4 linked regions of the Homo sapiens genome follow. The protein of the gene in region 4 interacts with the protein of the main gene of each other region in a pairwise test. Each region holds a gene or a part of one and is shown on either strand. Other genes may lie near its edges. The genes, in order: SLC30A8, STEAP3, CLDN8 and PKMYT1.

Evidence for each region.
Region 1: the proteins of PKMYT1 (region 4) and SLC30A8 interact in binary tests that used the Homo sapiens proteins (3 or more experiments, as listed by UniProt).
Region 2: the proteins of PKMYT1 (region 4) and STEAP3 interact in a two-hybrid assay, tested with the Homo sapiens proteins (one study listed by BioGRID).
Region 3: the proteins of PKMYT1 (region 4) and CLDN8 interact in binary tests that used the Homo sapiens proteins (3 or more experiments, as listed by UniProt).

What each region holds. Positions count from the first base shown.
Region 1 is NC_000008.11:117,172,995-117,177,253, forward strand, and holds the end of SLC30A8 (proton-coupled zinc antiporter SLC30A8), read left to right. Parts: 3' UTR 1-3,720; downstream 3,721-4,259. UniProt on the Homo sapiens protein: Proton-coupled zinc ion antiporter mediating the entry of zinc into the lumen of pancreatic beta cell secretory granules, thereby regulating insulin secretion.
Region 2 is NC_000002.12:119,226,826-119,233,864, reverse strand, and holds part of STEAP3 (metalloreductase STEAP3), read right to left. Parts: intron 3,246-7,039; 5' UTR 2,853-3,245; coding exon 2,831-2,852; intron 1-2,830.
Region 3 is NC_000021.9:30,213,475-30,220,643, reverse strand, and holds CLDN8 (claudin-8), read left to right. Parts: upstream 1-4,546; 5' UTR 4,547-4,718; coding exon 4,719-5,396; 3' UTR 5,397-6,638; downstream 6,639-7,169.
Region 4 is NC_000016.10:2,972,272-2,977,449, reverse strand, and holds the end of PKMYT1 (membrane-associated tyrosine- and threonine-specific cdc2-inhibitory kinase), read left to right. Parts: exon of another isoform or gene 1-381; coding exon of another isoform or gene 382-418; coding exon 419-786; intron 787-1,637; coding exon 1,638-2,131; intron 2,132-2,793; coding exon 2,794-2,900; intron 2,901-3,032; coding exon 3,033-3,205; intron 3,206-3,292; coding exon 3,293-3,450; intron 3,451-3,965; exon of another isoform or gene 3,966-4,196; coding exon of another isoform or gene 4,197-4,234; coding exon 4,235-4,312; exon of another isoform or gene 4,313-4,385; coding exon 4,386-4,497; 3' UTR 4,498-4,642; downstream 4,643-5,178. UniProt on the Homo sapiens protein: Acts as a negative regulator of entry into mitosis (G2 to M transition) by phosphorylation of the CDK1 kinase specifically when CDK1 is complexed to cyclins. Mediates phosphorylation of CDK1 predominantly on 'Thr-14'. Also involved in Golgi fragmentation.

The sequences.
Region 1 (4,259 bases), on a different chromosome or scaffold from region 4:
GCATCTTGAGAACACATAGGTAAATTTGAACTCAGGAAAGTCTTACTAGAAATCAGTGGAAGGGACAAATAGTCACAAAATTTTACCAAAACATTAGAAACAAAAAATAAGGAGAGCCAAGTCAGGAATAAAAGTGACTCTGTATGCTAACGCCACATTAGAACTTGGTTCTCTCACCAAGCTGTAATGTGATTTTTTTTTCTACTCTGAATTGGAAATATGTATGAATATACAGAGAAGTGCTTACAACTAATTTTTATTTACTTGTCACATTTTGGCAATAAATCCCTCTTATTTCTAAATTCTAACTTGTTTATTTCAAAACTTTATATAATCACTGTTCAAAAGGAAATATTTTCACCTACCAGAGTGCTTAAACACTGGCACCAGCCAAAGAATGTGGTTGTAGAGACCCAGAAGTCTTCAAGAACAGCCGACAAAAACATTCGAGTTGACCCCACCAAGTTGTTGCCACAGATAATTTAGATATTTACCTGCAAGAAGGAATAAAGCAGATGCAACCAATTCATTCAGTCCACGAGCATGATGTGAGCACTGCTTTGTGCTAGACATTGGGCTTAGCATTGAAACTATAAAGAGGAATCAGACGCAGCAAGTGCTTCTGTGTTCTGGTAGCAACTCAACACTATCTGTGGAGAGTAAACTGAAGATGTGCAGGCCAACATTCTGGAAATCCTATGTCAATGGGTTTGGTTTGGAACCTGGACTTCTGCATTTTTAAAAGTTACCCAGAGATGCTTCTAAAGATGAGCCATAGTCTAGAAGATTGTCAACCACAGGAGTTCATTGAGTGGGACAGCTAGACACATACATTGGCAGCTACAATAGTATCATGAATTGCAATGATGTAGTGGGGTATAAAAGGAAAGCGATGGATATTGCCGGATGGGCATGGCCAGTGATGTTTCACGTCATTGAGGTGACAGCTCTGCTGGACTTTGAATTACATATGGAGGCTCTCCAGGAAGACGAAGAAGAGAAGGACATTCTAGGCAAAAAGAAGACTAGGCACAAGGCACACTTATGTTTGTCTGTTAGCTTTTAGTTGAAAAAGCAAAATACATGATGCAAAGAAACCTCTCCACGCTGTGATTTTTAAAACTACATACTTTTTGCAACTTTATGGTTATGAGTATTGTAGAGAACAGGAGATAGGTCTTAGATGATTTTTATGTTGTTGTCAGACTCTAGCAAGGTACTAGAAACCTAGCAGGCATTAATAATTGTTGAGGCAATGACTCTGAGGCTATATCTGGGCCTTGTCATTATTTATCATTTATATTTGTATTTTTTTCTGAAATTTGAGGGCCAAGAAAACATTGACTTTGACTGAGGAGGTCACATCTGTGCCATCTCTGCAAATCAATCAGCACCACTGAAATAACTACTTAGCATTCTGCTGAGCTTTCCCTGCTCAGTAGAGACAAATATACTCATCCCCCACCTCAGTGAGCTTGTTTAGGCAACCAGGATTAGAGCTGCTCAGGTTCCCAACGTCTCCTGCCACATCGGGTTCTCAAAATGGAAAGAATGGTTTATGCCAAATCACTTTTCCTGTCTGAAGGACCACTGAATGGTTTTGTTTTTCCATATTTTGCATAGGACGCCCTAAAGACTAGGTGACTTGGCAAACACACAAGTGTTAGTATAATTCTTTGCTTCTGCTTCTTTTTGAAAATCATGTTTAGATTTGATTTTAAGTCAGAAATTCACTGAATGTCAGGTAATCATTATGGAGGGAGATTTGTGTGTCAACCAAAGTAATTGTCCCATGGCCCCAGGGTATTTCTGTTGTTTCCCTGAAATTCTGCTTTTTTAGTCAGCTAGATTGAAAACTCTGAACAGTAGATGTTTATATGGCAAAATGCAAGACAATCTACAAGGGAGATTTTAAGGATTTTGAGATGAAAAAACAGATGCTACTCAGGGGCTTTATGAACCATCCATCAATTCTGAAGTTCTGACTCTCCCATTACCCTTTCCCTGGTGTGGTCAGAACTCCAGGTCACTGGAAGTTAGTGGAATCATGTAGTTGAATTCTTTACTTCAAGACATTGTATTCTCTCCAGCTATCAAAACATTAATGATCTTTTATGTCTTTTTTTTGTTATTGTTATACTTTAAGTTCTGGGGTACATGTGCGGAACATGTAGGTTTGTTACATAGGTATACATGTGCCATGGTGGTTTGCTGCACTCATCAACCTGTCATCTACATTCTTTTATGTCTGTCTTTCAAAGCAACACTCTGTTCTTCTGAGTAGTGAAATCAGGTCAACTTTACCACCAGCCTCCATTTTTAATATGCTTCACCATCATCCAGCACCTACTTAAGATTTATCTAGGGCTCTGTGGTGATGTTAGGACCCATAAAAGAAATTTATGCCTTCCATATGTTTGGTTACAGATGGGAAATGGGAATGTTGAAGGACATGAAAGAAAGGATGTTTACACATTAAGCATCAGTTCTGAAGCTAGATTGTCTGAGTTTGAATCTTAGCTCTTCCCTTTATTAGCTCTGTGACCTCGAGCTAGTTACTTAAATGCTCTGATCCTCTATTTCCTGATCAGTGAAACCTCCCTATTCAAATGTGTGAGAGTTTAATAAATTAGGACACTTAAAAATGTTGGAGCAGTGCATAGCATGTAGTGTTCAGTACATGTTAAATGTTGTTTTTTATTATGTACAAACATGAGTGGGCACAGAATTTTAAATCATCTCAACTTTTGAGAAATTTTGAGTTATCAACACCGTTCCCACAAGACAGTGGCAAAATTATTGGTGAGAATTAAACAGCTGTTTCTCAGAGGAAGCAATGGAGGCTTGCTGGGATAAAGGCATTTACTGAGAGGCTGTTACCTAGTGAGAGTGATGAATTAATTAAAATAGTCGAATCCCTTTCTGACTGTCTCTGAAAGCTTCCGCTTTTATCTTTGAAGAGCAGAATTGTCACTCCAAGGACATTTATTAATAAAAAGAACAACTGTCCAGTGCAATGAAGGCAAAGTCATAGGTCTCCCAAGTCTTACCCCATTCCTGTGAAATATCAAGTTCTTGGCTTTTCTCTGTCATGTAGCCTCAACTTTCTCTGACCGGGTGCATTTCTTTCTCTGGTTTCTAAATTGCCAGTGGCAAATTTGGATCACTTACTTAATATCTGTTAAATTTTGTGACCCAACAAAGTCTTTTAGCACTGTGGTGTCAAAAAGAAAAACACCTCCCAGGCATATACATTTTATAGATTCCTGGAGAATGTTGCTCTCCAGCTCCATCCCCACCCAATGAAATATGATCCAGAGAGTCTTGCAAAGAGACAAGCCTCATTTTCCACAATTAGCTCTAAAGTGCCTCCAGGAAATGATTTTCTCAGCTCATCTCTCTGTATTCCCTGTTTTGGATCACAGGGCAATCTGTTTAAATGACTAATTACAGAAATCATTAAAGGCACCAAGCAAATGTCATCTCTGAATACACACATCCCAAGCTTTACAAATCCTGCCTGGCTTGACAGTGATGAGGCCACTTAACAGTCCAGCGCAGGCGGATGTTAAAAAAAATAAAAAGGTGACCATCTGCGGTTTAGTTTTTTAACTTTCTGATTTCACACTTAACGTCTGTCATTCTGTTACTGGGCACCTGTTTAAATTCTATTTTAAAATGTTAATGTGTGTTGTTTAAAATAAAATCAAGAAAGAGAGAGTTTGGGTTAAGTCATCATCTTTTTATCACCAAAATCATGGCAGGACATGTTTTTCATGACACCAGTGAGGACTGTAATGAGAATACACTCTTTCACTCTCAGTCATTTATTGGAAGAGATATAACTCATTTGGGGAACATACTTGTCTAAGAGAGATGGAAGATAATGTGTTAGAATCAGGGGTGCTTTTGAAATCATTCTGGTCATGGGCATAAAACCCCAGTGGAGGAAGAAGATGGTGGTCAGAGGTGGTAGGAGCCCTTGACGGTTGTAAAAAAGGAACTTGTGCTTCTTCAACCATAAAGCCAGGAAGTGATGAGAGATGTCAAGCTGAATTGCACCCCTTTCAGAAGTGTCAATCAAGTCCTGGAGACAATGTATCATTATAATTGCCCTATATTTCCTTTCTTCAAAGGGGTACCCATTTGTTAAAAACACGATTATCCTATTTACAGCCATTAAAACCCTATGGTTGTTATACACAGTCCAATAGTACTATCAAACATTATTTCCCTGAATCTGTAGAGTTTAGGAGTGT
Region 2 (7,039 bases), on a different chromosome or scaffold from region 4:
TTTTGCAACAGCTTTGATGTTCGCCAGGGTCCCAAGAGCTCAAAAGTCTGGTCCAGGCAGCCCGGGGAGCAGCTCCTGGCCTCCACCTGGGCCTAGGACAGGGAGGACTTCACGCTCTGGGACTAACTCTGCACTTTTTGTCACATTAACATTGGCTGCACACACTGGTTCTCTTGTCTGTCACCTCATTGGATGGGGGCCAATAAAAAACTCATTTCTGTGCCTCTAACACCTACCGGGGCCTAGCACACAGTAAGTGCTCAATACATTTTTGTGGTTTGAATGATTTAAGGACTAGATTCTAAGGGGAGTATTTGTGAGTTGGGAGGGGAGTATTTGTGAGTCATAGCTGTTCTCCCCAGAACCTAGCTGGGGCTCTCTTGTACTCAGTGGTGATGAAATAATAATACTATGAGTTTCTAATCCCTTCTGCAGCTTGGTGACATTGTTAGACCTGGCCAAGCATTTCGCTATTTGATAAACTTAGTAACACTGAGGACTTATGCAAAGATGAATGTAAACACTGGAAATAAATATTAACAAAGAGACTGCTGCAGATCTGGTCAAAGTGAAAATCAAACACCAGATCTAAGGTGCATTGAGGTGCAGCCTGGTATGGGGGTACTCATGGAAGGAGGCTTCAGGGATGCTGAGTCAATGGCTTCAGGGTTTTTGGAGGCTCCTGGGCCAGGGCATGGCAACCATTTGGAGGGTTCTGCCCAGTCCCCATTAGGTGGGGGTGTCAGGGCAGGTGAGGCCCAGCTGCTGCCATTGGCAGATGTGCTGTCTCCTTGGCCCTTCCAAACCTGGGTCTGCCTGATCTATGTCTCTGGCCACTTCCCACCCAAAGCTCTTGCTTGCTTTCTGCTTAGGTTATAGGCTTAATCTTTTTGCCTGGGAAGTGCCTTCCCCGCAAGTAGCAAAATTCAACAGGAAGGCCCAGTGCCTTTACAAGGCAGAATTAATTTCCCTGCCTCTGGCCCCTTGGCTCTGCAGCACAGGTAACAGGATGCAACTAGCATACGGTGGTGTGTACTTTCCCTTAGAGGTCCCAGGGGTAGGTGGTGGGGGGCCCTACTCCCCACCATCTCGATCACCCTTCCCCACATGCTAATGTTAGTATTAAAACTAACACCCTTGGATATGAACAATCTACATCTCCCAGTCAGGTAAAGTGAATAACAGCTTCTGCAAAGTCTTTCCCATTTTATGGATCTGAAATTTACAATATAAGTCAAAAGCAGCGCACATTTTATGCAAATAAGAAGTTTTCAGGGAAGTCCCCCACCCTGTGACTGCCCCATGTAGAAACTCCGGGCCTCCCCTACAGCATGAATTCCGTCTTCCCCAACAGAGAGGAGCGGGGCAGGCACATCCCAGCACCTAACAAATGCCTGGCATGGGCACAGCTGCAATAACCAGGAGTCAAATGCAGAGAAGTGCCAGCGAGGCGAAGTCGGGGATCGTGCCTGTGGATGTGGGCACAGGGTTTGACCTGCAGAAGGCTATAATTCCTTCTACTTTGCAGAAGAGAAAACTGAGGCCCAGTCAGGTTAAAGGTCCTCCTCTGGGCCCCGAGTTGGCTCTTGCCTGCCCCGGATCCACTGTGCCCTGGGCCCATCCAGTCCCTGCATTCAAGCTGCCTCTGGGGTGGGGAGGGTCTGTGGCTCATTGCTCAGGATGTGAGTAACAGCCAGTCACCCAGTCAGCACCAGACTCTGGTGTCTTCTGCTTTCTTCTGCTTCAGTTTTCTGTCTCCTCACTGAGCTGCTCCAACTCATACTTTCCAGCCCCTCATTCTCAGGCTGTTTCTGCAAATCCAGGGCTGCCCCCTATCCTAGAACCCCTAGGCTTCATTCTTACTGGGCCTGGGGTCCAGGAAGCCCCACCTGATCCCAGGTCCCTTTTGCTATCCCACCCCTAGCCTCCCACAGCTGACCTGAGGGCAGAGAGGCCAGAGGATGCCAGTCTCAAATCATGGTTTAAAAGCTCACTTATAGCCACACACATCTAATTGGTAGATTTCTATTTTTCTCTGTGGGCATTTTCCCTTTCTGATGGACTCTTACAAACGTTTTACTGTTATATTTCTTGTAATACTGCCTGGAATCATTATTTAGACATCATTAAAAAATTATTATCTTTTTAAAAGGAAGGCTGAGAAGTTCCTACAAAAGAGAATACAGAAAACTCAAGCACACTCGAGCCAATCCCCGCAGAAATACACGTGCGCGCAAGTTTCGTCTGATGGAAAAGAGTTTACCGTCACACAACTGTGCAAAATAAAAGTGAATGAATAATTTAGAGAGCTTTTTACAAACAGCTAGATTTTCGAATCATTCCAGAAAAATCTGGTTCATTTACTTGCAGCAGCAGTTCCGTGCTAAACCAATGCAGAAATGGTTACCAATAAGAAAAATTTACAATTCCCAATGGGCCTGCATTCCACAGAAATGCATCATAAACATTAACATCCTTAAACACACACACACACACACACACACACACACACACACACACACGCAACTGTGTGTGATAAATCCTTGAACCCCTGAAATTTAAAAGCCTCCTGACTTAATAACCTGGACTCCCTTTCCTCCAAAGGGGGCCATGAAAACGTGCAGCTGATACATATTTCCCATTTCATACTGCACTTTTTGCAGCCTGTTCCAAGGCAGTACAGATCTCTGGGAGGTGTCGAGTTCCTCGGACCTCCTGGAGATTCAAGGGGCACCCTCCAGCAGGGCAGGGGTCAGGTGGTGAGGGAGCTGGTGGGAGGGGTTTGCACACGACCCATGCCCCCTTGGATCTGCGTCCTAGCCAGACTTACCAACAGCAGGCTGGTGCGACATCCGGCTGACGTGAGGGTCTGAGGCTCTCAGGTCACTCGACAGCCTCACCGTGAGGTGAGCCACCCTTTCTGGCTCAGTCTCCAACCAGGACAGCCTGGCTTTGGTTCTGACTCTCGGTTTCTCAGGAGGCGAGGGCCCTGCCAGGGTCTTGCACAGCCAGCTGCCTCCCGCAGCCTGCACGCCAGCTCTTGGCCACAGGGGCTGGACCGGGAGTGGTGACTGATGCTTGGTTGGAGAGTGCACTGAGAGAGCGCAGCTCTGGCCTGCTGCTTCCTGCTCGGGGAGGAAACCTCACGGGTGATAATTAGTGGCTCAGACTCAAGTCTCTTTGCTACAGGAACTGAGGTGGGACGACCAGTAGAACCCAGGATGCATAAAATGAATAAATGTCATCTAACGCGCGCACACACACGTGAGCGAGAGAGAGAAAGGGAGAGAGGCGTTTACTCTTCGGGATACAAAGGCAAACATAATGGCTGCAGAAAGTGGCAATTTATCAATTTCTGTGGGGGAAATTTATTGCAGTCACCATGGCTGCCACTGGCTTAGTGATAATGCTGTCAGCATTTGGTGCCCACAAAGGCTTCATTGTCATCTTTACTTGCTTGTCAGTGCTCACAGTGGGGAGAAAGACGGACAGACAGACAGACAGACAGACCCACAAACAGATGACAGCACTTGTCTCCAGGGCAAAGCATGGACGGGGGCTGAAGAAGACACAGGCATGTTTCTGCTGGCTGGGGATGGCTTTTCAGTGGACCTTGGAGGCCACACCGGCAGCCCAAAGGAGGCTGGAGGTTTGGAAGCTTTTGCATTGTTGAAGTGAATTATGTGCAAGCCCATTCTTAGGGATAAGTGTATTCTATTGTTTTCAACTTGTTTGGAACCTAGCGATCTTGGAATAGGGCACATCTAAGTATCCCGGGCATCTTTATCTCAAGCCCACATGCAGAACCTGTTTTTCAGATCCCTGAGCATCTGATAAACAGGTTCTGGGCAGGTTTCCCCTATCATCACCAAACACCAAGCCAAGGCCTCATTGTTCTCTGACTGCTGTGGCCCCCTGGGTCTCCTCTCTTCTACTGGAGTGAAAGCCCCTGTGGGCAGGGCTAGATTCCTGAATCTCCGCGGAGTCTAACACAGGCCTGTAGGCAGGGACTGACTTCCACTACCCCTCCTTCCAGTCCCTGCCCACTCCACCCCCCACCACAGCCAATGGCATTCTTTCCATCTCCAATCTTGACAACCTCCTGGCCCATCCCAATCCCCCTTCCTTAAAGATCCAGCCCAAGGCCTTGGGCACTTAAGGCACCTGCCATCTCCCCCAACGCCCACCCCTGACAATCTCTCCCGGCTTTGAATTCAGACAGGCAGCTGTGTTAGTTGGGGGACCTAGCTGGACAGAGATGTGTGTGAATTCCGGTCCAGCCATGTGCTAGCTGTGTGACGTTGGGTAGGTTGCTTTCCCTCTCTGTCCTGATGATTAAACAGTGAATATGAAACCCCTAAACACATGTCTTCCTTAGGACTGTTCTTGTGTGCACCTTTCCTTGCTCTGCTGTGGCCACTCACTGCACGTGGCCCCTCTGCCACTCTGGGTGCTCTATGGTCAGCTGAGGGAGGGACCTAAGTGCCCTCCACCCCTGCACATCCTCACAGCCCCTCACATCGCTCTCTGCTTAGGTGAACTAATAATACAAAAATTAGCTGGGTGTGGTGGAGCACACCTGTAATCCCAGCTGCTCGGGAGGCTGAGGCACGAGAATTGCTTGAAATTGGGAGGCAGAGGTTGCAGTGAGCCGAGATGGCACCACTGTACTCCAGCCTAGGTGGACACCTGTTGAGCCAGCAGGTGTCAGGCAGTGCTTTCAAATATTTGTGAACACCAGAATCGCCCGGGCAGTTTAAGTGGGTGGGTTTCTGGGCAGCCCCAGGCCCAGAGTCTCTACTTCAGTGTGTTGGTGTGGGGTGGATAGGACTCTATTTTCCTGTCAAAGCTGCTGGGGGGTCTCCAGATCTCTTTGGAGAAGCTGCACTGTGAGGAAACCGCACCTGAGGAAAGCAAACCTTTCTGTTGCTTTTGAGAGTACAGGAGCTGGAGAGTACGCGTTCCTGGAGGGCTCCAGGTCAGCTGTGACAGCTGCCCCCTGGGGTTCTCACTGAGACCTTGGCTCTACCCTGAGCTCCCTCAGCCTTGAGACTTCTCCTCCTCTCAGCACCCCCCACAAGCCATGCCAGATGTTAAAGGTCATGGGAGGGTAAGCGGCAGCCCCAATGGAACTCACACCAGCACAGGTGACACAAGGTTTCCAGCCTCCAGCCTTCAGATCTGGGAACACCAGGAGGGCAGGGCTTTCCCAGATGCCTGCCCCTCCACCCACCCATCACCCTGATTTCTGGCTGCTGGGCCCAGCACTGTCTTGCTTCCTTCCCTTCCAGTTCCAGGCACCACCTTCTTTCTGGCCAGTCCAGAGACATCTCCAAGGGCCAGAGGGTCATCTCCAGAGGGCCTGGTGTCACTTCCCGCAGCTGCTCTGGCCTTTCACCCAGGTTGGGGCGATTTGATGGACAGTGGTGGGTCCCCTCAAACTCCACTGCATTCAGCGTGCTACTGACTCATGTGCAGGCCTGGGCAGTCACCCAGAAAGCCCCCCTGGATGCCAGCAAGCCCACTGTGGCAATGGGCAGGCCAGACCTCACCTGGAGGGCCCAGCTCACAGCCACTGTATCCTCTAGCTGTGCACCCAGAGTTCACCTTCAGAGAGACACTTGCCCTGACTGGGGGTATACTGTTACTCTCTCAAGCCCACCAGGAAAATCACGCACCACTCCCCACAGCCTACTGGCCACCCCACCAGTCGGATGCTTATAGAAATGGGAAGCAGCCGGCTGTGGTGACTCACACCTGTAATCCCAGCACTTTGGGAGGCCGAGGCAGGTGGATCACCTGAGGTCAGGAGTTCAAAACCAGCCTGGCCAACATGGCAAAACCCCATCTCTACTAATAATACAAAAATTAGCTGGGTGTGGTGGAGCACACCTGTAATCCCAGCTGCTCAGGAGGCTGAAGCAGGAGAATTGCTTGAAATCGGGAGGCAGAGGTTGCAGTGAGCCAAGATGGCACCACTGCACTCCAACCTAGGTGACAGAGCGAGATTCTGTCTCCAAAAAATAAATAAATAAATAAATAAATAAATAAATACAAGAAATGGGAAGCTTGTTCCCTCACAGACCCCAGCATGCTGGCTTTGGGAGCCCTGCTGTCTACACATGAACCAAGACAGCTGACACCACAAAATAAAGCTTAGTGGGCCCATTCACCGACCCCAAATCTCTTTATATGTACCGAAGTCGGCTTTATAATCTTGGGGCAGTATTTTTTTAACGTGTTTAATAACAAGGCTTAAACATGTGATCTTTGCTGAACTCCCACCTGGCTCTCATTAAGCAGAAGGCAGAGATGGAGTAAGTCACAGCCTGATTGCGGAACAATCAGTGCTCACTTGTTGCCCACGCTGCCCGGTAACTGTGGGCATGCAGAAGACAGACTGACTGGGAAGAGTTGAGTATCGAACAATTCTCCGGTGACAGTGTTCTTACGGTGCTGAAGCAATGAACGCCTGGCCCATTCAGTGCAGGGCTCACGAGACCAGGCCACACCTGAAGAGGAACACACTCTGCCCCTGGGTTGAAGTGACAACGCAAGAGTTTGTGATCCACAAGCAGTCGCCCATCAGCCCTGATGGCAGGCACAGTGGTTGATCCCTCCAGCTCAGTGGGTGAGGGGAGCGGGTGTCTTTGGTTTTGCATCCTTGCTCACTCACATGAGCTATAGGTCCTGAGCCTTACTGCCACCGTGTCTCCTCACTCAGATTCGCAAGTACGCAGAGGGCACGGGTGTTTGTGGGGTGGTTGATGACAACAACACTCATCCTGCCAGAAGTGGGACTCAGCTGGTCTTAGAGTGCCTGGCTCAAAGTTAGTGCTCGGTAAGTGTTTGTTGAATGAATAACCGATGAGGCAGAATTTGGACAGGAGAATGTGGCAGTTAGTTAGTGGCTAGGAGTCTCAGGTTAGGGGTGGAAAAAAAGAGGTTGGGGTCCATATGGAGTTGGAAAGTCACATGGTTGGGAGAATAACATTATCGACCTCCTAAGAGTCTCCAGGTACAAATGAGCTCCTGTAGA
Region 3 (7,169 bases), on a different chromosome or scaffold from region 4:
GAAAGAAAGGTAAAAACATGTCCATGACACTATTTCTATTATTGATTTTTTAATTCATGTTCACCATTCTTTTTTCATCTTGGAAAAATGAAATATTGATATGGGTGATATAATATGGGTGAAGTTCTTAAGCACCAGTAGACCCTTCAGAATTATGCAAATTTTATTGCTTGAATTTGTTAGTAGCTAGATGTTACAGACCGGATATTTGTGTACCCACTAAATTCATATGTTGAAATGTTAACCCCCAATGTGATGGGATTTGGAAGTGAGGTCTTTGAGAGTGAAACTTTGAGAGTTGTAGAGGAGGTCATGAAAGTGAAATCTTCATGACGGTATTAGTGTCTTTATAAGAAGAGAATGAGACTGGAGCTCACACTTTCTCCCTGCTATGTGAAGTCATCTCATAAAGACAGCTTTCTATAAACTGAGAAGTGGGTCCTCACCGGAACCCAGTGACACTGGCACCCTGATCTGGGACTTCAGAAGAATGAGAAATAAATTTCCATTGTTCAAGCCACTTGGTCTGTGGTATTTTGTTAAAGCAGCTTGAATTGGCTAAGATACTAGGCAATTTCTATGCAGTAAGGAGTTCATTTTTAAGCAGAGCAACTGAAAATAGATCACACAGAGGTGGTGAAAAGAGCGGTTGGGCATGGTGACTCACACCTGTAATCCCAACACTTTGGGAGGCTGAGGTGGGCAGATCACTTTAGGTCAGGGGTTCGAGACCAGCCTGGCCAACATGGTGAAACCACGCCTCTACTAAAAATACAAAAATTAACCAGCTGTGGTGGTGTGCACCTGTAATCCCAGCTACTCGGGAGGCTGAGGCAGGACAGTCGCCTGAACCTGGAAGGCAGAGGTTTCAGTGAGCTGAGATCAAGCCACTGGACTCTAGCCTGGATGACAGAGTGAGACTCCATCTCAAAAAAAAAAAAAAAAAGAAAAAGAAAAAAGAGAGACATGGTAAAAAGAGAGGGCTGCTAATGGATAGAGAACTGGAAGCATAGCTGGCCATCATGAAAAACAAACAAGATGATGGTTCAAGAGAACATACAGCAATGCACAACAGTATTTTCGGAACAACACAGAGACCTATTGATATGTTCACTTATTCTCTCAGGACAAGATGGTTGGCCAAGTATGGTTAATTAACAGTGGAACATAGTTAAAAATAAACACCCTTGAAAAACTGTCATCACAACAGAAAACTACAAAGCAAATCCAGAAAACAAAAGAAATTGACCTTTGCTTGATAGGCAGAAGCAAAAATTATTTCAAACAGTGATAAGAATTAATAGAAATCCAAGACTGTGGAGTTGAATTAGGTTAAGGATTAATGGGCATAAGACAATCTGATAGTGATTTGTATGTTATCATTTAGGAAGAAAAAGCATTTGCCTGTGTTATGCTATTATCAGGGCTGAATGCAGTTTAGCAAATTTAATTGCTAAACTTAAATCATGCCTTATGATGATGTTGACAGACAGAAAAGCCCGAGGGAGGGTGGAGAGGGGGTTGACATGAGCTCTCATTTCTCTCCTGGGTTCTTGGTAGTACTGTGGTTCTTCATGGAAATGGAAGTACAAACTATTGAATAATCGATGTATTTTGCTCTGTAGTTCTAAATTAGAGTAAAAATGTTATCAATCTGTTATATCTCTATTACTGCTATCTGAATTTTGTAGCCAAGTTAATCAATTCAGCAGGACAGAAAAGTAGATAACAGTTTCCTTTTATCTTTGAATTTAGGCCCCTTTTGTCTTTAGCAAACTCAATATTACCATTTTTTTCTGTCTTTTTATTCCAGTGTCTTTTAGGACATGGTTATTTATAAATACTATGGAGTTAACTGTATCATTGTCTGATAAGGAACCTATTTGGAAACCCTGGGCCACTTCCTAGTAGGGAATTAACTGTACAATAATTCTAATGTGAACCTAGTGTTAATTTCCCACTCAGATCCTCATCTTTTGGCTAGAACAATTTCAATAGTAAAGTACCTAATATTTTTGAAATAAGGAAAATATTTTTATGTAAAATAAGTTCCTGGTAAAATTCAAGCCTCAAGGGAAGAGAGGTTTGGTAATACACAAAGCCAAGAAATATGAATGCGTACCTGGGAAGCAGCTCCCACAACGGCTGAGGCACTCAGAGGCAGAGCTTTCTGCTTCTGTCTCATGCGTTCCTGTGTTGATGTGGATAGTCAGCAATATTTAAACAGAGCTCCTAAGAAACATGCCACACGGGAATTCGAAAAGAAATTTCAATGAAGCAATATATGCCTTGACATCCCTTAAAATGTAGCTTCACGTAGTCATTATCTCAACCAGTTATATTATTTCTTTTTCATTTTTCAGTTCTGTCAATCACTCCTTTTTCCCAGTTTGACAATTAAAGATGAAAAATATCTTCTGTTTATATGTCATTTTTCCTTTTGTGGATTGCACAAAAGGAAAATCTTTAAGCTTTACTTCATTTTCTTTTCTTCTTCACATCATAAAAATGATCCTTTCTTTGAAATTTTACTTTCTCTCTGCTTCATCGGGCTACCTTAAATCCAAATATGGGAGAAAATGTTTTCTGCTCACTTCTTAAACTTTGAAAGTTTAAAATCTCAACTTTTAAAATCTTATTTTCCCAAGATTAATCTAAGTCTCCCTCCACCACAAATCTGTAACTGATAGAAACTTGATGAAGAAAATGTCATATATTTTCTTTTCTTTTTTTTTTTTTTTTTTGAGACAGAGTCTTGCTCTGTCACCCAGGCTGGAGTGCAGTGGCGCGATCTCGGCTCACTGCAAGATCTGCCTCCTGGGTTCATGCCATTCTCCTGCCTCAGCCTCCCGAGTAGCTGGGACTGCAGGCGCCCGCCACCATGCCAGGCTAATTTTTTGTATTTTTAGTAGAGACGGGGTTTCACCGTGTTAGCCAGGATGGTCTCGATCTCTTGACCTCTTGATCTGCCCGTCTCGGCCTCCCAAAGTGCTGGGATTACAGGCGTGAGCCACCGCCCCGGCCAAATGCTGCATATTTTCTGCATCAGCCTAAGGGACACCCTGAAGTTTGGCACCTCACAGGTCAACAAATGAGAATATTTCTGTAAATATTAAGTTTTAACTTTTTATAAGGTTTATAACGTCTGTTTAACAAAATTATAACAACTCATACTACTGTGCGTCTGTCCTGCCTCTTTTTTAGAAGACAGTCTACTTGATCCTCCTTTTGCCCTTTCTACCATATAGTTTTTGTTTTAATAATATCCACAAATGACTCAGATTTTTTGAACCATGAAACTCTCAAAGTTTAATCAGTGAGCAGAAACGATTTTCTCCCATATTTGGATTTAAGGTAGTCCAATGAAACAGAGAGAAAGTAAAACTGTAAAGAGAAAATCATTTTTTATGATGTTAAGAAGAAAAGAAAATGAAGTGGCAGCTTAAACTTTGGAAAGATCAGACAGAGAGCTTAAGGTGATCTCCAGAAGAAAATTGCTAGTCGAATTTTCTCAGATAAACATTTATGCTTAGTATAGCACTACTGTTAGAGCATCATTATTTTGAGAAGAAAGTTCAAATTGTCTTGCGTTTAGGGGTTTCTATGTCCTACTGCAGACATAATATTAAAAGGTAGGAAAACATATTTGGTTAATACCTAATATAATACAGTTTGGTAAATATAGTTCCCTTGTCTTGTAAATATCTTATTTTGAAATATCAGCCATTTGTATAGGCCCAAGGGTCTTGTGTCATCTTCAGAATTCTAGTTCCTTCAGCCCAGGAATTCAAAGCAGCAAGAATAACACCACAAAATAAGCTCATAAGCTTATTTTAATGCTATAGTGCTGGATACATAAGATAATCATCTGGTGATTTTTATTTTGGCAAAAAATGTTTTTATAAGTGAAGATTATCAGAAAAGTGTCAATGAGTATTTTTTCTGGCTTAAAGAACTCCAATATGTTTTCAGTGCCAAGGAGAAGGACAGCCTTGTGTATTTAATTACTTTAGCTTATTTTGTCCTCTGGCATGATCTGTTCCCTGATTTCACCACAGTAGAGCTTGCTTTGAAGTTGTAGAAAAATTAAATCAATCACTTGGATCACATGTGTCCCAAAGAATGTGGCTTCCCAGGTAAAAGCAATCTTTCAATCCCCTACTCTCGTTTCACTTTGGCATTTCAACAGCGTTGCAGAATTCTTCGGCAGATAATTTATTTTATCCCTTGGTCCCAGCAGCTCTTATTAAGAGTTTCAGAATTGCCTGTACAAGGTGCACCTTTCACATTACAAGGGATCGGCTCATTTCTTGATGCTTATGCAACCACTTATAACTATGCCTACAGGTAAACATACTGCTGTCTTCTTGGAAGACCGAGAAGTATAAAGAATGTTTATGTGCAGGTCTAGCTGTTCCAAGTACCCAAGTGTTGGTTTAGACACACCTGGATTACCATCCACCTTTTATTGGCTGAGAAAGTTGCCACACCTGATTTGTAAGTTTACCTGTTGCAGCCAATAGCAGGGCCATCTCAGCCAGCCAGCACTGGATACTATCTGGCCAGAAGTAGCAAAGCAGCTCTTATTTGAAAAACCACTGGGTTCCGAGTTCATTACTACAGGAAAAACTGTTCTCTTCTGTGGCACAGAGAACCCTGCTTCAAAGCAGAAGTAGCAGTTCCGGAGTCCAGCTGGCTAAAACTCATCCCAGAGGATAATGGCAACCCATGCCTTAGAAATCGCTGGGCTGTTTCTTGGTGGTGTTGGAATGGTGGGCACAGTGGCTGTCACTGTCATGCCTCAGTGGAGAGTGTCGGCCTTCATTGAAAACAACATCGTGGTTTTTGAAAACTTCTGGGAAGGACTGTGGATGAATTGCGTGAGGCAGGCTAACATCAGGATGCAGTGCAAAATCTATGATTCCCTGCTGGCTCTTTCTCCGGACCTACAGGCAGCCAGAGGACTGATGTGTGCTGCTTCCGTGATGTCCTTCTTGGCTTTCATGATGGCCATCCTTGGCATGAAATGCACCAGGTGCACGGGGGACAATGAGAAGGTGAAGGCTCACATTCTGCTGACGGCTGGAATCATCTTCATCATCACGGGCATGGTGGTGCTCATCCCTGTGAGCTGGGTTGCCAATGCCATCATCAGAGATTTCTATAACTCAATAGTGAATGTTGCCCAAAAACGTGAGCTTGGAGAAGCTCTCTACTTAGGATGGACCACGGCACTGGTGCTGATTGTTGGAGGAGCTCTGTTCTGCTGCGTTTTTTGTTGCAACGAAAAGAGCAGTAGCTACAGATACTCGATACCTTCCCATCGCACAACCCAAAAAAGTTATCACACCGGAAAGAAGTCACCGAGCGTCTACTCCAGAAGTCAGTATGTGTAGTTGTGTATGTTTTTTTAACTTTACTATAAAGCCATGCAAATGACAAAAATCTATATTACTTTCTCAAAATGGACCCCAAAGAAACTTTGATTTACTGTTCTTAACTGCCTAATCTTAATTACAGGAACTGTGCATCAGCTATTTATGATTCTATAAGCTATTTCAGCAGAATGAGATATTAAACCCAATGCTTTGATTGTTCTAGAAAGTATAGTAATTTGTTTTCTAAGGTGGTTCAAGCATCTACTCTTTTTATCATTTACTTCAAAATGACATTGCTAAAGACTGCATTATTTTACTACTGTAATTTCTCCACGACATAGCATTATGTACATAGATGAGTGTAACATTTATATCTCACATAGAGACATGCTTATATGGTTTTATTTAAAATGAAATGCCAGTCCATTACACTGAATAAATAGAACTCAACTATTGCTTTTCAGGGAAATCATGGATAGGGTTGAAGAAGGTTACTATTAATTGTTTAAAAACAGCTTAGGGATTAATGTCCTCCATTTATAATGAAGATTAAAATGAAGGCTTTAATCAGCATTGTAAAGGAAATTGAATGGCTTTCTGATATGCTGTTTTTTAGCCTAGGAGTTAGAAATCCTAACTTCTTTATCCTCTTCTCCCAGAGGCTTTTTTTTTCTTGTGTATTAAATTAACATTTTTAAAAAGCAGATATTTTGTCAAGGGGCTTTGCATTCAAACTGCTTTTCCAGGGCTATACTCAGAAGAAAGATAAAAGTGTGATCTAAGAAAAAGTGATGGTTTTAGGAAAGTGAAAATATTTTTGTTTTTGTATTTGAAGAAGAATGATGCATTTTGACAAGAAATCATATATGTATGGATATATTTTAATAAGTATTTGAGTACAGACTTTGAGGTTTCATCAATATAAATAAAAGAGCAGAAAAATATGTCTTGGTTTTCATTTGCTTACCAAAAAAACAACAACAAAAAAAGTTGTCCTTTGAGAACTTCACCTGCTCCTATGTGGGTACCTGAGTCAAAATTGTCATTTTTGTTCTGTGAAAAATAAATTTCCTTCTTGTACCATTTCTGTTTAGTTTTACTAAAATCTGTAAATACTGTATTTTTCTGTTTATTCCAAATTTGATGAAACTGACAATCCAATTTGAAAGTTTGTGTCGACGTCTGTCTAGCTTAAATGAATGTGTTCTATTTGCTTTATACATTTATATTAATAAATTGTACATTTTTCTAATTATTTGACATTCTTTCACAAGTCTCCTTTTGTTTCTGTTTTATTAACTTGTAGAAGAATGTTGAAAAGCCTGATAATTTTTTATTCTCCAAATTGAGAAAGAATGTCAAGATTTGCCTTGTAAAGACAAACAGTGCATTAATTTTTGAAAATATAAAGTACTCTATGTTATTTATGTTATTTAACAACAATATACCTTATAATCATTGGATCCCTATACCAATATTCAATGCAGATAATATATTTATAATTTAAGATAGTACTATAAATTCAAGCAAATCTATATGTTATAAATATTATGTATATAACAGCCAGGTTTGAAAAATTTTCTGTAGCTAAATATATATTTCTACTTCTGAGAAATAATAAATAATATTGTCTAATGTTCTGGGGGCATGTATTACATGCTAGGACCTCTACTGCTTATATGAATTGTTATTAAATCTTTTATGAGACTGATAATGTTATTAGTTCAATTCAAAGATGAGGCTATCTCAGAACAATTCATTGATTACTCAATAGAATCAGGAGATTTATAA
Region 4 (5,178 bases):
CCGGGTTTTCACTTTGGAATTGGAGATAAGGGATCGTGGGCCCGTGTAGTCTCGGAAGAGGTTGTGTAGTTTAGGATCAAAGAGCTGGCCGTGATGAGGGCAGGGATGCAGGCGCAGCCCGTCTGACTCCAAACTGCCTTGCTCTTAACCCGACTGCAAGACCCTCAAGAACACGGGCCCCATGGTTTTCCTCTTATGTTTCTATCATCTCTAAAATACAACAGCCTGGTGGGCAGGTGAGTATGAATCTGTCCTCTGCCTTTTCTTGGTAGGTGCTTATTGCTCCCATTGCCGTTTAAAGTAGAATAAGTGTGTGGTATAGACATAGCTCTCTTCTGTGGCCTCTTTGGAGCCACAGGGCCAGGTGGTATCAGAGTGGACATGCTGCCCTGTACTCAGCCTCTGTCTCTGCCCCCAGGGCCTCCTGCACTGGCCATGCCCATGCCCACGGAGGGCACCCCGCCACCTCTGAGTGGCACCCCCATCCCAGTCCCAGCCTACTTCCGCCACGCAGAACCTGGATTCTCCCTCAAGAGGCCCAGGGGGCTCAGCCGGAGCCTCCCACCTCCGCCCCCTGCCAAGGGCAGCATTCCCATCAGCCGCCTCTTCCCTCCTCGGACCCCAGGCTGGCACCAGCTGCAGCCCCGGCGGGTGTCATTCCGGGGCGAGGCCTCAGAGACTCTGCAGAGCCCTGGGTATGACCCAAGCCGGCCAGAGTCCTTCTTCCAGCAGAGCTTCCAGAGGCTCAGCCGCCTGGGCCATGGCTCCTACGGAGAGGTCTTCAAGGTGAGTGAGGGGACGGCTTCTAGGCCCATCTGGGGGACCTCCTTTGTGTTTCTGCACCTCCCTTGGCAGGACAGTGTCCTGGGCAGCCTGATCCCCTTCCGTTCCCTACAGCCTGTCCCTGCTGGGCTCACAGGCTCCCTCCACATTTGACTTGGCTGCTCCCATCATCCCCAATGCAGGCCCCTCCAGGGGTTGCTCTGTGCATACTGGCCCCTTGTCCAGAGTCTGGCACGCCCTGCAGCAGCCCCTGTGCCATCTCCTCCGGCCCTGGCGCCAGCTGTGCAGCGTCCTTGGCGAGTCGGCCCAGCCTCTGGCACTGGCCCTGAGTGCAGTGCCTGGCCAGCCCTCCCCAGGCTGGCAGGCTTTGAGCTACCCCCTGCCTGCCATCTTGCTTTTCTTAAACACAGTTTCCAGTCATTTATATTTTCTTTTAGAGAGGAGTTTTCCCTTGTATGAGTCCTGTATGAAGACAATTTTGTTAAAAAGTACAAACAACATTGGCCCCCAGGTCAGCTTTCTCACAGGGGAGCCCACTTTTCACACCACAGCCTGGGCTGCCTGTGTTGCTCTGCAGCTGCTTTTTCCACCTCGTGACACATCCAAGAGGTCCCCTGGGGTCAGTGCAGGTCGGCCCTGGCTCCTCCGTCGCTGGGTCTCCACAGACCCAGCCCGAGGGATGGAGGTTTGTCTGGTTTTGTTATTACCCTGGGCAGGGGTCTGAGACAGATGCCAGCTACACCACCGTGCCCCGTGTGTGAACCCTTAATGGGGTCTGCCAGGTTGTCCCCCTATGTGATTGTGCCACTTGTGGCTCACCCTCACTGTGTGCGTGGGTACCACCTCCCTTCCAGGTGCGCTCCAAGGAGGACGGCCGGCTCTATGCGGTAAAGCGTTCCATGTCACCATTCCGGGGCCCCAAGGACCGGGCCCGCAAGTTGGCCGAGGTGGGCAGCCACGAGAAGGTGGGGCAGCACCCATGCTGCGTGCGGCTGGAGCAGGCCTGGGAGGAGGGCGGCATCCTGTACCTGCAGACGGAGCTGTGCGGGCCCAGCCTGCAGCAACACTGTGAGGCCTGGGGTGCCAGCCTGCCTGAGGCCCAGGTCTGGGGCTACCTGCGGGACACGCTGCTTGCCCTGGCCCATCTGCACAGCCAGGGCCTGGTGCACCTTGATGTCAAGCCTGCCAACATCTTCCTGGGGCCCCGGGGCCGCTGCAAGCTGGGTGACTTCGGACTGCTGGTGGAGCTGGGTACAGCAGGAGCTGGTGAGGTCCAGGAGGGAGACCCCCGCTACATGGCCCCCGAGCTGCTGCAGGGCTCCTATGGGACAGCAGCGGATGTGTTCAGGTGGGGACCGGGGCACGCCAGGTGTTTGGCAGGCTGTGGGAGGCCCTTCCTGGGACGGAAGCTCCATTCCCCAGGAGGGAAGCTCCACCCTAGCCCAGGACACCCGGCCTCAGAGCCACAAGGCTGAGACGCCATCCCTGCCCTCCAGTGGAGAGCGTCTCTGGTCAGGCTGCCTGTGAGCCTCGAACCCTCCAGAGCCACTTTGTGTAACCTGCCTCCTCACAGCTCCACAGGAGAAACAATTGTCACTCCATTTACAGCCAGATTAAGGGCCTTGCCGGAGCCCACTGCTAGCAAGTGGCATAGCTGAGACTGGCCCTAGGTGCTGGGTTCCAGGGTCCACACTGGTAACCACTGCCCTGATCATCAGGATAGTAATACCTGCCAGCAGTAACTGTGGTGCCTGTCCATCAGGGCACTGGGAGGACTCACCACTGTGGCTTGTGGGCTCCCTGGGCACAGAGCCCATATTCCATGATGTCCCCATCCTGCCCAGGGTTCATGATCAGGCCTGTTGGGGTGTCCCTTCCCCCTGCTTCCGCCCCTCCCTGACTGATGAAGACAGCAGCCCTCTCCCACCCACCTCCAAGAGGCAGCCCTGGACTGGGTCTGTGTCCCAGGGCCAACCCTGCCCCTTTCTGTCCCCATCCCGTCCCTGCCAGTCTGGGCCTCACCATCCTGGAAGTGGCATGCAACATGGAGCTGCCCCACGGTGGGGAGGGCTGGCAGCAGCTGCGCCAGGGCTACCTGCCCCCTGAGTTCACTGCCGGTGAGTAGGTGAGGGCGGGAGGGGGTGCTGCCACGGGCTCCTGGGGAGATAGTGGCTGGCCATGGAGGCACTGCTGGGCTCAGGGTGCAGTCGGTGTTCTGGGACCCCGATGTGGCCCTTCCTCATGGGCAGGTCTGTCTTCCGAGCTGCGTTCTGTCCTTGTCATGATGCTGGAGCCAGACCCCAAGCTGCGGGCCACGGCCGAGGCCCTGCTGGCACTGCCTGTGTTGAGGCAGCCGCGGGCCTGGGGTGTGCTGTGGTGCATGGCAGCGGAGGCCCTGAGCCGAGGGTGGGCCCTGTGGCAGGTAAGCTCCCGACAGTGGCGGCTGCCTGCCCTGCTCCCCAGCCCCGGGGGTCCGCCCACCCACATCCTGAGCTCCTCTCCCCCACAGGCCCTGCTTGCCCTGCTCTGCTGGCTCTGGCATGGGCTGGCTCACCCTGCCAGCTGGCTACAGCCCCTGGGCCCGCCAGCCACCCCGCCTGGCTCACCACCCTGCAGTTTGCTCCTGGACAGCAGCCTCTCCAGCAACTGGGATGACGACAGCCTAGGGTGGGTTCAAGTGCAGGGTATGGGGGGCTAGGGGGAAGGTGGGGGATATCACCGGGGCTCCATGGAGATTCGTGGTGAATGGGGACCACTCCCACAAACCTGGCCCCCATCACATCCTGGGGAAGGGGACCAAGACTGGGGGTGTGTGGCCTGGCCAGGCTTAATGCAGCTGGGCATGTGGACTGGCCGTTCAGGGCATGGCTTCACACTTAGGGCACCAGCACCCCAGGGAGTGGCTGGCCGCGCAGCCCCGACCCCAGTGGAGGCTGCCAGTGCCCAGGGATAAAACATTGTCCCTTCTCTGGGAAGAGAAAGCCTCTGGAGTCTGGGGAGCCCTGCCCTGGGAACAAGTCCTTGGTCCCTGGGGCCTGGTGTCTTGAGTGAGAGGCTGTAATTAGGAAACCACACGCTCAGGGCAGACAGCTCTTGGGGACTCTGCCGTTAGCCCCTTCCTTACAAACACATCACCTCATCCCTCGGGGCACTTGATAGCAGACAAGAAGTTCCAGAAAGGCTTACATTTACTAAAAGTTTATTTCAAATCTGCCTCCAAGTCCATGTGTTCTGAAAAGGACAGAGGGGGCCTTGGAGTGCAGCCAGATGGAAGGACTTTGAAGGCTGTCCAAGTGCTGCTTTCAGAGTGCACCAAGTTTTTATTGTCCCTGACTGTGGCTCCCTGCCTGTTTGTCAGGCGGGAGCCTGGAGCCTGCACAGGGACAGAGCTGGTTTCATCCGGCACTCCCTAGCCCTGGACACCCTCCTTGTCTCGCCTGCCCTCCTGCAGGCCTTCACTCTCCCCTGAGGCTGTCCTGGCCCGGACTGTGGGGAGCACCTCCACCCCCCGGAGCAGGTGCACACCCAGGTAAGCAGGTCCAGGGGCTGGGGTGGGCAGGGCTAGCTTTTGGATCCTGAGTGTCACTACTCTCTCCTCCCAGGGATGCCCTGGACCTAAGTGACATCAACTCAGAGCCTCCTCGGGGCTCCTTCCCCTCCTTTGAGCCTCGGAACCTCCTCAGCCTGTTTGAGGACACCCTAGACCCAACCTGAGCCCCAGACTCTGCCTCTGCACTTTTAACCTTTTATCCTGTGTCTCTCCCGTCGCCCTTGAAAGCTGGGGCCCCTCGGGAACTCCCATGGTCTTCTCTGCCTGGCCGTGTCTAATAAAAAGTATTTGAACCTTGGGAGCACCCAAGCTTGCTCATGTGGCAACATGGCCCTTCCTGTCCCTTTATTGATGTCATCCAGGGTCTTAACGCCCCTGAGGCTGAGCCCTGCTGCAGAACCCAGCGCTCCTGGCCTTGGGCCAGCAGCTGAAGCCCCATGCTGTGTGGAGCAAAGAGGTTTCCTGAGCAGGCACATCCCCCGGTGGGTACCTGGAGCTGTTGGGAGTATGGCACTCAAGGTGGAGGGCAGGCACGGCCCAGGGGTCCCAGGATCTGAGGCCGCTGAGCTCCCTGTGTCAGTTTCCTGGAAGAAGCAGCTGCAGCCCTTGTGCCTGTGGCCAGCTGGTACAAGACGGGTCCACGCCCCCTTGGTCCTTTTGTCCTGAATGCCTTACTCCATAGTCTCTGGGCAGAGGGAGCCAGGGCGGGCAAGCTTGTGGCTGCTGGGAGGGCTGGTATGCAGGGCAGAAAGATGGAGATCAGGAAGACTGGCCACAGGCCTGGTGGGAGGAACAGGATAGGGTGAGGAGGCTCTGGGCTGGCGGCCTGGCAGGACTTGAACTCT